Regions from separate parts of the Homo sapiens genome. Here region 1 is linked to region 2. Evidence: fine-mapped expression QTL. Tissue or cell type: monocytes after LPS. Region 2 holds a variant in brackets; the other region holds the start of a gene. All regions are shown on one strand. Distances are between the middles of the regions.

The links. PIP is the estimated chance that this variant, and not a neighbour inherited with it, causes the effect.
Region 1: CD101 starts here. The variant in region 2 is fine-mapped to the expression of CD101 in monocytes after LPS (Quach 2016, PIP 0.95).

What each region holds. Positions count from the first base shown.
Region 1 is chr1:116,997,557-117,005,664 of GRCh38, forward strand. It overlaps CD101 (CD101 molecule), which reads left to right and starts at 4,204. Exons shown (of 10, transcript NM_001256106.3): 1 at 4,204-4,304. The coding sequence starts at 4,262.
Region 2 is chr1:117,130,255-117,138,362 of GRCh38, forward strand. All of the region lies in intron 1 of LOC124904387 (a long non-coding RNA gene), which reads left to right. It also overlaps the pseudogene RPS15AP9. Among named protein-coding and RNA genes, the nearest start is that of TRIM45, 13 kb to the left of the region's middle. The variant G/GTGTACGTA (reference allele first, on the strand shown) is at 3,880.

The DNA of each region.
Region 1 (8,108 bases), 130 kb before region 2:
TTCTCTTTTCAGTGCACATGGCAGATTGATTGCATTGATGGCCTCAGTTTGTTTGTGTTAATCTCTCCCTTTGCTCTATCACTTTGTAGTTCCCCTCCATAAAGAGGCAGAGTATATATTAACCCATCTCTTGCCTTTGGACTTTCATGTGGCTTGCTTTGGCCCATGGGATGGTAGTGGTCATGATGTAAGTAGAAGCTTTAAAAAATGCTGTTGTGTTTCCACTAGTTCTTTTGGACCCCTGACATTACCATGAAAATGTGCCAGTCCAGCCTGCCAGAGAGATGTGAGAGACATGTGGAAGAGAACTGAGTCATCCCAGCCAAGGCCATCCTAGACCATCCAGCTCCTGTCAGCAGGACACAGCCCCATTAACAGAGCCACCCAGCTGACCCATAGGCTTGTCAACAGAAATAAATGTTTGCTGTTGCAAGCCACCAAAGTTTTCTGATTGTTACACAGCAGTAACTACTCCATTCACCACATTTGCTTAAAGTGTTGGTGCCTGGGGGTGACCCCCAACTTCTGCAACTAAAATGGTGAATAAATTCCTGTAACTTGAGCCTCACTGATTTTATAGTTAGTAGCCTGGAGAGTTTGTTCGAAATCTCCATCCTAGGCAGACTGCCCTTTAATTGTTCCCAAAATACAATCTGCACATCCCTGACTCTGCCTCTGCCTCTGTACATTGTATTTGTCCACACTGAAATGTCCTTCTCCTTCCTGCCCATTTGCATCATACTAGATGTCCAAGGACCAATTTTAAAACCAGGCTCTTCTGAATGACTTACTGCGACTGTTCCCTGCCTTTTCAGCCTATTAATTCAGGTTATTTCTTGCCTGAGCTATAGATCGGATACCAGACCCATGTTTGCCGTATATGGCTGCTGTTTTTTTTTTTTTTTTTATCTCAGCTGTTTATTAAACTAGACCCCAAGTTCCTGGAGGGCAGGGCCCTCTTACACCTCTTTTATCCCCCAAGCCTTGCATAGTATCTTGAAAAGGGAAGTACAGGGCCTTTCACTTAAGACTTCAATATTTGTAGTTTGACCATCACTGGAGGGCTAATAGGTATCATTGCTAATGAATAAAACCAGAAGAATGGATGAGTGAATGGAGGGATGGATGGATGTATGGATGGATAGATAGATAGATAAAGTTAGATGCCTCCAGACCTGAATTTGTAGAATGTACCCCATTCTACTATAATTCTCACTAGGAAAATAAATTTTACTTTAAAATGCCACCTTTCCCCTGAAGATTTTACTGACCTCCCATTCATTCTCTCCAGATTAGACATGCCCTCTTCCTTCTCTGATATCCCTATGTGACAGTCAAGTTCTTACCTGCTCACCTCCACCATGCCACATGGCACAAGCAGCAGCTCCTTCAGATCAAAGGCTGCAGCTTAATTATGTCCTTAATGGATGTCCAGCACATGGTAGGGTGCTTACTGCACAGGGAGTATTCCGTAACTATTTGATTATTTTATCTATCCCACCTCTGTCTTTATTTATTTATTTATTTTGAGATGGAGTCTCGCCCTGTCGCCCAGGCTGGAGTGCAGTGGCGTGATCTTGGCTCACTGCAAGCTCCGCCTCCTGGCTTCATGCCATTCTCTTGCCTCAGCCTCCCCAGTAGCTGGGACTACAGGCGCCCACCACCACACCCAGCTATTTTTTTGTATTTTTAGTAGAGACGGGGCTTCACCATGTTAGCCAGGATGGTCTCGATCTCCTGACCTCGTGATCCGCCCGCTTCTGCCACCTAAAGTGCTGGGATTACAGGCATGAGCCACTGCGCCCGGCCTCTGTCTTTATTTTAAATGCCCTACTTCAGGCCCTTATTATTGCTCATAGAGACAACTACAAAAACCTTGTAACTGACCTTCTTGCTTCTAGCCTTGTCTCCCTTCTTCACCTTTCAACCTGTTAGCAATGCACACATACAGAATTCAACTTAAAAGGAAAAACGGAAAATCCAACCAGGCTATACTACCACTAAAAATCTTCATAGCTTCCCTCTTCTTTGAGGTATTAATAAAAGCCAAGCTCTTAGGCTTGGCACACGAAGCCCACTAAGATCTGCCCATCCTACCTGTATAGATCCTTCTTTCACAACAACCTCAAACTTCATTCCAACAAGATAGTACAGCCTGTGTGTTACTATTCATGCCACACGGTTTTTCCCCAACTGTACCTTGGCCCCCTGCCTCTCTAGATGACTCATTGACTCACCTGGCCCAGCCCAATCCATCTTGACCTTCCCTCCTGCCTACCAATTTTCCCCACCCCCTATAGGTGCCCCACTGATTGTTGACACATTGCATTGTGATTATCTGATTTAAGTGGAAGCTTCCTGAGAACTCTAGCACTAGCGTAGTATTAGTCTAGGTTCAGGGCCAACTGTTGCATTTAGATACTCCTCTGCCATCCTTGATACCTGGGTTCACATCGGTGTAACTGCCCATTAGCGTAACTGCCCAACAGGTTTCTCCTTGCCTGCTGCCCAGATAGAACAGACTTATCAAGACAGGAGAATTGCAATAGAGAAAGAGTTTAATTCACACAGAACCAGCTAAATGGGAAACCAGAGTTTTATTACTCAAATCAGTCTCCCCGGAAATTCAGAGACTGGAGTTAGTAAGGATAATTTGGCAGGCCAGGGAGTGGGGAGTGCTGATTGGTCAGGTAGGAGATGAAATCACAGGGGATCAAAGGGGGTTCTTGCAGTCTTCCGTTCCTAAGTGGGATCAAAGAACTGGTGGAACCAGATCACCAGCCTGGATGGTGTCAGCTGGTGCATCAGGATGCAGGGTCTGAAAAATACCTTGAGCACCAATTTAGGTTTTACAATAGTGATGTTATCCCTAGGAACAGTTGGGGAGGTTGGAATTGTGTGGCCTCTGGCTGCATGACTCCTAAACCATAATTTCTAATGTTGTGGCTAATTTGTTAGTCTTACTAGGGAAGTCTGCTCCCCAGGCAAGAAGGGGGTTTGTTTCCAGAAAGGGCTGTTATCCTCTTTGTTTCAAAATTAAACTAAGCTAAATTCCTCCCAAAGTTAGTTTGGCCTACAACCAGGAATTAACAAGGGCAGCTTGGAAGTTAGAAGCAAGATGGAGATGGTGAGGTCAGATCCCTTTCACTGTCATAACTTTCTCACTGTTACAATTTTTGCAAAGGCAGTTTCACAGGGCAGATGAAGATTTACTTAAATGTCTCATGATGGTGATGATGGTAGCTAATATTCATTGAGCAGTTACTATGTACCAGATATTGTTCTAAGTGCTTTAAATAAATTAGCTTGAAACTATCATTCTCAGCAAACTATCTCAAGAACAAAAAACCAAACACTGCATGTTCTCACTCATAGGTGGGAATTGAACAGTGAGAACACTTGGACACAGGAAGGGGAACATCACACACCGGGGCCTGTCATAGGGTCGGGGGAAGGGGGAGGGAAAGCATTAGGAGATATACCTAATGTAAATGACGAGTTAATGGGTGCAGCACACCAACATGGCACATGTATACATATGTAACAAATTTGCACGTTGTGCACATGTACCCTAGAACTTAAAGTATAATAATAATAAAAAAAAGTAAAATACAAAAAAAAAGAAATAAAAAAATAATTAAAAAATTAGCTCATTTGGCATTCACAGTAATCTTACAGGGTACCTACTATTAGTATCCTCATTTTAGCAATGAGGGTTAGGAAAAGTTAATTAAGTTTTCTAAGATTGCACAGTTACTAAAACTAGAATCTGCATGCAAACCCAGGCAGCCTGACTCTAGAGCCTGTAACCTTCAGCACCACCTCATGTCGCCCCAAGTTCATGTTTTTCAGGGGCCTTCTCCCATTTCTCAGTCATTTCCTCTCTCAAGAGAGGAGGAGAAGGAAGGGCCAAGAAGACAACATTGCTGGTGCCTTTTTTATTTATTCAGTTTACCTAAATTCTCTCATCATTACCAAATGACACATACTGTGAGCCAGGTTGAGACCCATCTTTTCTTAGTTTTATCGATATCTGTTTACTTAACCACAAAGATAACTTTTTTACTCCCAAATTTGAGTGATTAGTAAAGAGCTACATAATGTAACCAGTTTTGCTTTTCACAAGACATCTCTATTTCTCAGTGGGCTGAAAACCACACTTTTGCTTCCTCTTTACTTTGCAGTGAGAGCACAGCATTTGTCACTCAACCTCTGAATGTTAGTGACACTATTGGGACGAAAAAGGACTGTGCTGGCCCAAATGGCAGGCATCTCATATGTGGCATCTTTCTTTCTCCTTCTGAGTAAGTTTCATAATCCTTTATGTTTCTCTTGTCACAGGAGTTCATCAACTCAGGGTGCTGAGTGATGGAACAGGACAATTTGGTCTCTACAGGAACAACTATGCCATATATTTCTGATGTTAGCAATAATTTTTGACTTACTAATGACAGTTCTTGGCTTACCTAGACATCCTTGAGTTCCAGGGAGTCACAATGCTTGGTTGAGTCCCATGCACAAGATTCCATTGGTTTTAACATTTGTGTGTGTTGCCAGATCTGTCAGTTTTGCTTGGCCCTGGCTTTACTCATCTTCCTGGGCCGATCATCCCAAGAGACAGTAAAAAAGCTTTGTGTCCCAAACTGAGAGGAGACCTTAAGGTTTGCCTGATATTAAGGCTTGATGGGATAACTATGCCTTGCAGATATGACTGGATGGAAAGAAAGGTTATGAAAGTACTTAGTAGTTTTAGACTATGCTAAAAGAAGGTTCTAGATTTCACCTGCGAGTGGAAGTGGAAATTGACTACTGAGAGACTGAGAAATGAACAGGAAGATTCACTTGGCTCTACTGAGGGCCATGCAGAGGGGCTTGCCTGATCTAGGGGCATTTATCTATGTTTGAATAGGATGGAAGAAGAGAAAATTTGGAGGTAGAAGGGAGAGTCAGATGAGTTGAGCAGGTAATGGAATAGTTTCAAACCAGATAGCAGGTACTTTTTATGCTACAGTTTTCATTAACATCTGGTAAAGAGAATAGACTCCATCTCAGAATAATGTTTAAAATGCATAAAATAAAATGCATAGAATTACAGAGGAAATCAGTCACATTGAAATACAGGTATCAAAATATTTTAAATAAATTATAATGCAGTAATTTATTTGCTTCTTATTTATGCATTACATAACAAAATCTACAGGTAGGTCTTTTAACCACCAAACTTCAAAGTAATGATGAGTATAAATAACATTTCAATATATCTTAAGTAGTTGTAATGTGATATGAAGATATCTGTGGTTGTCTACATACATAACTGAAGAAAATACTAAATTTCCATTAGAGGCAAAAATGAAAATAAAGATGTAAGATTATTTTTCACCCTAGTTTATGGACCCTTTAATCCTACATGTGGACCCAGTTAAGAACTCTTGCTTTATAGCTGGGCATGGTGGCACATACCTGTGGCCCTAGCTACTTGGGAGGCTGAGGTGGGAGAATCGCTTGAACCTGGGAGGTGGAGGTTGCAGTGAGCCAAGATTGAGCCACTGCACTCCAGCCTGGGTGACAGAGTGAGATTCCATCTAAAAAAACAAACAAACAAACAAAACTCTTGCTTTAGAGAGACTGGATGGAGCCAGTGCAGGGACCCGAATGGCTGGGATGATTGGGGAACTAAACCAAGCTGCATTTGGTGTGACCAGGACTATGGCTGAAGAATTAAAAGAAAAGAATACAGCATTCAGCACAAAGAGGTTGCTTAATAAACATTGATTGAGTTGAATTGTGCTCATGTCTCTAGGTACATATGATAGTGTGAGGTTAAGAGTCAGACCTAGGGCCTGCAGGGGAAGTTACTGGGACCACTTGCTGGGTGACGGATGCCTGCCAGACTGGCTTGGCGGGTGTTGATGGATAGGTGCACTGGTGGGATCCTTTGGGGGCTGGTGTGTTTTTGTTGTTTGGTTAAGTTGTCTGAGTGTGATTCTCAAGTGTATGTGCTTTGTGTATTTGAATTCTATGTTTGCTATGTATATAGGAGGAAACTGGGTTTACATTGTGCAATAATTCATAGAATTGCAAATTCTGTCTCTTTTTTTGGTAAGCAGGCTAGAAGCCCTGGGGGAAGGAAAGTAGTAATCAAGGCTCAAAAAGGGGAAGCTGGAAGCTTTTCCTTAACCCATTTAAACAATTACCTAAACTGGGTTATACATTTACTTCTTCTAAATTCTGACTCATCTGAAGCACTAATTTTGTGTAGAAGCACAGTTTTTATGTGAAGAATACATAAATCAGGAAGTTACTGGAAAAAGCTTTAGAAGTCTGCTGTTTGTCCTTACAAATATAGAGGGGAATTGAAATAAATTATTTAAATAACGATCTATTGATCAATTACATTGGTTAGCAAATTTACACTTTGTCCCAATTTTTTTTTAGTAAATATAAGGACTGAACAATCCTGATAGAAAATGGTGCCATATGAGATTAATGTCATGGGTAAATGAGTTCTCGGATTTAGCAGTTAGCTTTGTCTGCTTGATCTATTTCCCCCACCCAAACTAGCTGCCCTACAAATAATGGCCATTAATATGGCAGGGTTTGGGGGAAGGGCTATTGTCTGTCTTACTGAGTTTGCATTCATGAAAAATAAAAAAGATTCCACTTAGTATGGATGGAAGCTATCTCAGCCTCCAAGCATATAGGGTTTTTGAATGTGAAAAGAGAAAGAAGCTGCTTGTTATGTTGGCTATTCCTGAGGTAGGTTTTGTATAAGGTAGCATTATTTGAAACTGCTGTTTTTTTGGTATAAAAAGTGCTCAAGTATGGACCATTTTATACAGTTCAACCTAATCGTTTTCATTCAAATAATACTGCAGTGGTAAATTTGACAATTCCAGTGATATTTTTAAAGAAAGTCAATACCATCGAGGAATTTTTGGTGTTTTGAAAGCATGATTCTAATGTTAGTATGTCAGTGCCAAGCTTTGTACTCATCAGCCAACAAGAATATGAGCTACTATTCAAAAGTAGCTAACCCTCTACCCATTAAAAGAGAGAGCAAGAGGGCAGTCCTCACAGGTGTTTTTCGGAGGGTGGATGATATGTACTTGAAAAAACCCAGAGAGAATATATTTATAGTAAGATGCTTAAGCTTATGGCCCCAGTGCATAGCCATTTGAGTTGATCTCTGCCAGTCATGCCTTCTACCTGAAAAATACCTTTGAAATCTCCACACTATTTCTTTCACTTTTCTCAGAAAGTAGTATGTCTTAGACTGTTTGGCGTGTTGTAGCAAAAGTACCATAAACTGGGGCGGGTGGGGGAGGGGGGCTTATAAACAACAGAAATTTAGTTTTGGAGGCTGGGAAGTCTAAGATCAAGGCACTGGCAGTTTGGTGTCAGTGAGGGCCTGTTCCTCATAGCACCTTCTAACTGTGTCCTCACGTGGCAGAAGGGGCTAGCGAGCTTCCTGGACTCTTTTACAAGGGCATTAATCCCATTCATGAGAGCACAGCCCTCATGACCTAATTGCTTCCTAAATGCCCCATCTCCTAATACCATCACCTTGGAAATTAGGTTTCTGCGTGTGAGTTTTAGGAAGACACAGACGTTGAGACTATAACACAGCACCCTCCCTGTCATCCCTCTACTAGGACATTACTTCATTCATCCTCCTTGCTGGCTTCACCCATTCTCCATCCCACCCCTTCCTACCGCTCCTCACCTAGCTACTCTTTCTAGCTGCCATCCTAATCTTCATTTTTCCTTCTCCATGAAACTCCTGGAAGTAGGTTCCACTTCCTGCAGTCACTTCTTACCCTGAAAACTGCTGCTTCCACTCTATTGAAATCCCTTTTACAAAGATCTTCATGGACATCCTCCTCATCGAGCTAACAGGAGTCTCCTCTGCCTTCAGAGTCCCCAACCTCTTGGCAGCCTTTGGCAGTGCTGACAAGCCCTTTCCTCTTAGAATGTTCTTCCCTTGATTTCCAGCCGCTGTGTCCTAGTTGCCCTCCATCTAACTCTTCCCTCTGTAAGTTTTGTTCCTTATCCCATCCCCTAAAGAGAGAAATTCCCTAGTAATCTCTCCTTAGTCCTCTTCCTTCTGT
Region 2 (8,108 bases):
GCCACCTACAAGCCCAAAATTCTTTGACAAATAGCCAGAAGCCCACTCCCAGGCCCATGCAGTTGTAGACTGCAGGGTAAGTGTGCACACACTTAGGCCTCAGGAGTGGTGAAAGGACAGCTTTTGGGGATGGTGGAACTTGATCAAGCCTGTTGGAGTGTCCACACACATATGCAAGGGCCTCTGGTAGGATGGAGAAAGATGAGAACAGGCCATGGGCTGGATGCCCCTGTTTGTCCTCTTGCTCATGGCCACTCAAATATTAGGGGTAGGCCTGCCTCCTATATTAAATCTAGTTTCTCCACATATTTAATATAATTTAAACCAGCACTAAGTGAACGCCAGTATTATGCCAGACACTGTGCTGGATATTTTCAAATGCATTACCTCATTTAAATGTTATTCTTCCATAAGAATGCTCAGAAGTAACTTACCCAACTTACCTAAGGGCAAGCAACTGAGAAGTTAAATGCATAACCCGTATCCTCAGGCAGTAAGTACAGTACCAAAATACTGGTGTGTGTGTGTGTGTGTGTGTGTGTATGGTATGTGTGTGTATACATACATATATACATATACTTTTTCTTGAGTAAATAATGTATCTGATAAAAACATGCAAACAATTTACAAGAATATAAGTAAATAGTAAATCTCCCGTGCCAGGCCTCGAGTCAGAGACAACCAGTTAATAATTTTTTTAATTAAAAATACCCACATATTTTAAAATTTATCATCAATAATTTTTAAACTTTTTTATTTGGGAAACTTCAGATATATGATATATACAAGCATAGGGAAAAGTATAAATAACCCCTAAGTACCCCTCACTCAACATCACCAGTTACAGCATTCTGTCACTCTTGTTTAATATACTTCCCCAACTTTTATGTTGTTTTCTCTGCTGGAGGTTTTCAAAGGAAATACCAGATATCATGTCATATTATTAAATTATATTAAAATATTAGATACTTAATTTATAAAGGTTTTGATGTAAAGATGGAAAATATTTTGAATTTTCCATGAAGACCTCTTAATTTAAAAAATGCCACATAAGATTATATATGCCATATAACATTTTACCAATGTTATTTAAATTTATTTATGTATTTATTTAGAGATGGAGTCTCGCACTGTTGCCCAGGCTGGAGTGCAGTGGCGCAATCTTGGCTCACTGCAACCTCTGCCGAGTTCAAGCAATTCTCTTGTCTCAGCCTCCCAAGTAGCTGGAACTACAGGCGCACACCACCACACCTGGCTAATTTTTGCGTTTTTAGTAGAGACAGGGTTTTGCCATGTTGGTCAGGCTGCTCTCGAATTCCTGACCTCAGGTGATCCACCTGCCTCAACCTCCCAAAGTGCTGGGATTACAGGCCTGAGCCACCATGCCCAGCCCTAATTTTTAAATATTTAATGTTTCCTCCTTTGTTCCAAAGGACTCACGGGGGAGTTAGGCAATAATAATTTTGTGACTATAAATTAAACTTAAACGTGCATTCCACCTCATGCCATGCAGTTTTCTCTGCAGAATTCTGTGAGACTGTGTCTGTTTTTATTTTATAGTCCGTCCACTTTTTATCTTTCTTTCCCTTCTTTTGGAAGAGCTGTTGAAAATGGTAAGCAAATAAATGCCATTTTTTCCTCACTTCTCTGAGTGATAAAACCTGAAAATGATGAATATATAAGGGCAGACTATGATTTAATGTAGTGCCTTTTCTAATTCAAATGACAACTAACTTTTCTGAGCTAAAGTGTGCCCATGTCGTGATAATAATATTTAGAGGATGAGTAGGTTATAATATATCATGGCATACAGAGAGGTCTATACATTAGTTCCAGGAATGTTGCTAGGAAATATTAAAAAAAAAAATGTTCCTAGATGCAAGGAAATATAAATAATCCCCACCAACTAGGGCAAAGCCTAGGTATTTATTTCTATATTGACAGCAACTATTTTTTTCTTAAGTACCTATTTTCTAGATGGCATTTAAATCTGCACTGCATTTTAGTAAATTTTTCACTTTTTTGCACAGTGTTCAGGACCTGAAAGCTCCTTCTCCTATTATTAATGAGGAGTATATGATGTCTTCAGGAAATTCTGAAGTAATAAAAGCCCTTCTATTCTTCAGTGTTCCGTGCCCCTCTTTTAGGCAGAATCCCGTCAAGAAAATCTTTGGAACAGTACTGTCTGGAGCACTGGACTGGGGAGGGCCGGGTGAATCTCTGTGTTTGAGGAGCTGAGAAGCAACACTCTGGGTGGAAAAAAGGCTCAGAGACTTGTTTGGAAGCTGCATTTGCAGAGTAAAGCACTTTTTGATATATGCATCTAGTGTGGCCTGGAGCAATGCTGATAGAGATTGTGAGGTAGGAAGAGTCTAGGTGGGTAAAGTCCCTCCAAGCCACCTTTGGTACTGCCATTGCTCTAGACCTGTGTTGTCCAATATGAGGACTTCAAATGTGTTTGGTCCAAATTAAGACAATGCTGTAAGTGGAAAATGCACACTGGTTTTGGAAGATTCATTATGGAAAAAAAGAATGTAAAATATCTCGTTAATAATGTTTTATATGAATTGCATGTTGAAATGATAATATATATGATATATTTTTATTTTTATAGCTTTTAAGGTATAGACTATTTTTAGAGCAGTTTTAGGTTCACAGCAAAATCAAGCAGTTTTCCATTAGAAAATTTACAACTTATCTTACGTGTATATGTTATTACTATATTAATATTCTTTCTAAAAACTAATTGTAATAGGAGTTCATTCTATTATATTCTGATTTATTCCTTCTTTATGTTAGATCTGTTTATCTCAGACATTCTAAGTGGGAGCAATATTGCCCCTAAATGGACAGAACTTGGTTCTTGGATTGTTAAAAAAAATCCTACTTTTAAAAAACATTTTTTATTTTAGATGGGAGGTTACTGTGTCACTCAGGCTGGAGTGCAGTGGCACAATTATAGCTCACTGCAGCCTTGAACTCCTGGGCTCAAGCAATTCTCCTGCCTCAGCCTCCCAAGTAGCTGGGACTACAGGTGCACACCACTATCCCCAGCTCTTTCTCTTTTAGTGTACAAAGCACAGATATATATGTAGTACAAAACCAGAGATAGATAGATAGATAGATAGATAGATAGGTAGATAGATAGACAGACAGACAGCTAGATAGATAGATGATAGATAGATAGATTAAAGTTTCCTGAGGGGTGATTAGGAAAAAAAAGAGTCTAAAATTGTTCCTTAGGGGGTTGGTCATGAAAGGCTGACTAACACTGGTTTATCTACACTAGATATTCTTAGAGTGTGTGCACATAACAATGGAACTTTTTAATGAACTATCAATCTCCAAAGTTTCCTAAGGAGGGAAAAATGTATAAAATAGATGAAAGTATAGAAAGATTTACATTTGCAGATTAGTGGGAAGGAAGTATCTGAGGAGTGTTAGAAATCTCTACCACTGGCCGGGTGCGGTGGCTCTTGCCTGTAATCCCACCATTTTGGGAGGCTGAGGTGGGTGGGTCACCTGAGGTCAGGAGTATGAGACCAGCCTGGACAACATGGTGAAACCCTGTCTCTACTGATAACACAAAAATCAGCCAGGTGTGGTGGCATGCACCTGTAATCCCAGCTACTCGGGTGACTGAGGCAAGAGAATCGCTTGAACCCAGGAGGTGGAGTTTGCAGTGAGCCAAGTTCGTGCCATTGCACTCCAGCCTGGGCAACAAGAGTGAAACTCCTTCTCAAAAAAAAAAAAAAAAGAAAGAAAGAAAGAAAAAAGAAAAAGAAAAAAGAAAAAAAGAAATCTCTACCACCAACTAATCACCAGATGTTAACCTTTTTGCCAATTCATTTCTCTCTGTGTGTGTGTGTGTGTGTGTGT[G/GTGTACGTA]TGTGTGTGTACATATGTGTGTGTACGTGTGTGTATTATCTAGGTGAAGCAAACATAAATGTTCTTTGCATTTATTTTTTCAAATGTTTTCTAGGTGTGAAATTTTTCCAAATGATAGTTGGGGAAAGGCTGGGCACGGTGGCTCATGCCTGTAATCCCAGCACTTTGGGAGGCTGAGGCAGGTGGATCACAAGGTCAGGAGTTTGAGACCAGCCTGGCCAACATGGCGAAATTCCATCTCTACTAAAAATACAAAAATTAAGTGAGCGTGGTAGCTGGTGCCTGTAATCCCAGCTACTCAGGAGGCTGAGGTGAGAGAATCGCTTGAACCTGGGAGGTGGAGGTTGCAGTGAGCTGAGATCGCACCACTGCACTCCAGCCTGGGCGACAGAGCGAGACTCTGTCTCAAAAAAAAAAAAGGGGAAAATGCCATACTTCCCCACACCCTCTCTCTACCCATTCCTGTACTCCAGTTCTATACTGGGGTCCTATGGAACCACAGTTTCTTGGTAACATGTTTTCTTTCACTTCTAGATATTTGCATATATTTCTCCCTCTGCAGGGAACATATTGTCTGGCCTCCCACTTTGTCCTTCACACACAGCCTTTGCCTAGATAACTCCCAGGGGTCTTTTAAAGTTTCACTCCCTCCAGGAAGCCTTTCATGATCACCTAACCCCACTAAAGTCTGCGTTAAGACTCTCATATATATTTCCTTTATTGTAATTGTTCTTATTATTGTCCTTGTCATACAATATTATACGTGTACATTAAACTTGTCTGTTTTCACTGCACTATGAGTTCCTTAAAAGCAAGGATTATGATTTATCTTATTCATTCTTTGTCCTCTGAAACTATGACAGGGCATCTCACAATATTTATTAAAGTAATAATTGATTTTTCAATAAAATGCATAGTTGCTTTATATAACCCCATTCGAAAGGAAGGAAAAAACAAGAAAAAGGGGGGAAAAAGAAAACTTTGATGTTTTATTTGGTTTGTAAAGCTTTACTGATGACAACAGCATAATTTCAGGTTAGACTTTTATAAAATATTGAAAATAGCTCCTAGATCGCATTAGCCATGTAAAACTCTGGGTGAAATATCCCTGACAGTCCTAGAAAAAATTGGTTGGTTGTTTCTCTCAGCTCCAAAAGAGCTGTTTCTGCCTCTGTCTTACTCTGCAGGAGGTGCGGTAGGAGGTGGGAAGTCGGGGAGAGTGGGGATGGTACAAAGATGAAAAGTAAGGGAATGGTTTTTCAGGAATTTGGAGTTTAGCAAGAGAAACAGACTCATGAGTGATACTAACAGTTCTACCTTACATATGTATCATGTTTTTTGTTTGTTTTTGTTTTTTTTTTGTTTTTCTTGCAGTTTACAGTGCAATTTCCCATCATTTATTCCTCAAAAAGCCCTTTAAAGTAGGCATTATTAGCCCCATTTTAAGGGTGATTTTAATATAAGCCAGGATGTGCCATGAAAGTAAGATGTTCTTTTTTTTTTTGTTTTCTTGAGTCCAGGCATTTCTCCTGTATCTAGCGTCCATCATTTAAAATCTACCACTCCTTACCATATTCTACACCTTTCCTTTTGTATAAAAGTGTGAGGTATAACCCAGGCTGCAACTTCAGCCCTCAACAGCAGGAACTATTGTCTAATGAAAGATGTACTCCAGATGGAAAATTTCTCAAGTGAAATGGATGGAATTGGTAAATCCATTGTTTTCTAAATTAGCAAATATTTGGGTATGTAATAATATACATTTATTCAAGACAAAGGCTATGATCACAGCTTTTCAAAATATGTATGCAAACGGATGAGGACTAAAGCATACACATTTTGATCATTATTAGGGAGGTGGATTTAGGAGTAATTATTTTCTCCATAAATTAAAAATCGTCAATAATTTTTAGCTTATGTACATACCCAAGTTCTTTTGCACATTAATTAAAGAAAGCTGAGAATCACCTATTTTCAGTCCTAAAGGATTCTTGGCTTATTTAACCCACTAGGTGAGTGGCCATTTTCTCTCTGTCTTCCCAGCTCCAATCAAGACAATCTTCCCACCTTCTCTCAAGAACATGCATAGGACTTTGCCAGAATTATTGGATCAAACCACCGCACCATGACACATTGACCTGGGAAAGAATTGTTTATTTCTCAACTTGATCACTCTTCTGTTTTGAACCTGCAGGCGTAATGAATGCTTGCTCTCCTCTTCCTGAAGCAAATTACTTGTATTTTTGTATTATCCCTTAAAGGGGTGGTTCTCGGGCAGGGGTGGTGGCTCATGCCTGTAATCCCAGCACTTTGAGAGGCTGAAGCAGGCAGATCACCTGAGGTCAGGAGTTTGAGACCAGCCTGGCCAACATGGTGAAACCCCCGCCTCTACTAAATATACAAAAAATTAGCCAGGCATGGCAGTGGACACCTGTAATCCCAGCTACTTGGGAGGCTGAGGCAGGAGAATCGCTTGAACCTGGGAGGCGGAGGTTGCGGTGAGCCGAGATCGCGCCATTGCACTCCAGCCTGGGCAACAAGAGCAAAACTCCGTCTCAAAGAAAAAAAAAGGGTGGGGGGTGGGGTGGGGGGTAGGGGGTAGTTCTTGGATCACTAATTGGAAGTATGAAGGCAGGAAGACTAGTTGAGAGTCTGGGGCAATTGTTCACCTGAGCGATAATGCAAATCTGGGCAGAGTCCTGCAGGCCTCTTCTTCCCATACCTGGCAGGGAGCTGGCAACATGCACATGTGGCCACACCCATGTGGTCACCCTTTGTGTTGCAGTTTCAGCTGATCAATAGTTCAATGACATTTGTATGTAGGGAGGATTGCCTGACCCTCCTACAATGGCTGTTCGGGAGGTGGGATTATTCCTTTTCTTTATCTGAGCAGATATACATCTGAAAGGCCCTGGAAGTCCTTGGAAGAACAACCTAATAACAGCTCCTGAGCATTGGGGGTTCCAATTTCCAACAGGGCTATTTCTTCAACTGAGGGCTTGCATAGCATCATGGTTGCCTACTTTTCCTGCAAATATAATATAGACCATTACTGTGGGGAAGGGTCACTCTCTACTGGAACACTTGAACCTGATGAGTCCAGTACAGCTATACCCAGCCTAAGTGCTATAAGGGCCCAGAGATTACCCTGCTCCTTGAAATCTGATTGTGTTTCCCCAGAAAAGCCCTCTTTTATGTTTACACTACGTAGCTCTAGAAGTAAATGTGTCTGTATCCCTTTTGCCTGACTGGCCAGCACACAGGTGTTTTCAGTCTTCAAGGACTACAAAAAGTTAAGGGTGAAGGAAAGAAAACACACACACACACACACACACACACACACACACCGGTTTCTATCCTGAGAGCCCCAGGACAGAAAAGATTGTAATCTACCTCTAGCCTAAAAACATCCCTAGCACTCAGCAATTTAGTTTAGTCACATGGAGACAAACTGCCCCTTTATCACTCAATTCTCCTCCTTTGAAGATTGGACCCACACTGGTTTATTTTTTATCTTTTCATGATCTATGGTCTTTTGTAACATTTAAAATAGTAACCTGTGGTTTGGGGAGGCCATTAGCCAATTCTGTTCCCTTAACAGCATCTACCTGCTGAGCCATTGTGCTCTAGTTTTTAAGTGTCCTCTGGCCTGGTTTGCTATCAGTAGCTATTTGGACAAGACTTTCTGTTGTGCCGCAGCTGTTCAAGCATTAAACATCTATTCTTGGTCAAATGGAGGGAAAAAAGCAAAGTTCATGTTTTTTCTTTTGTGGTTCCTTGATGTTCATTCGCTCTGACCACCACACGTACTTAATAATAGCTAATTTTTATTAGTTCCTTCATATATGCCCATGTTATGGATGGAACTGTGCCCCCGCCCCACCCCAGATTTATATGTTAAATTCCTGACCTCCAGGATACCTCAGAACATGACTCTATTTGAAGATACAGCCTTTAAAAAGGCAATTAGGGTCAAATGAGGTCATTTGGGTGGGCCCAAATCCAGTATGGTGGGTGTCCTCAAAAGGGGAACTCCATGTGCCCTCCCTTCCCATCCTCCTTCCGCCATCTCTACATGCTGCCATAATGGAATGCATGAACGCCCTGGCTGATGCTCTCAAGAACATCAACACTGGAAAAGGAGGCAAATGCCAGGTTCTTATTAGGCTATGCTCCAAAGTCATCATCTGGTTTCTAACTGTGTTGATGAAGCATGGTTACATTGGCAA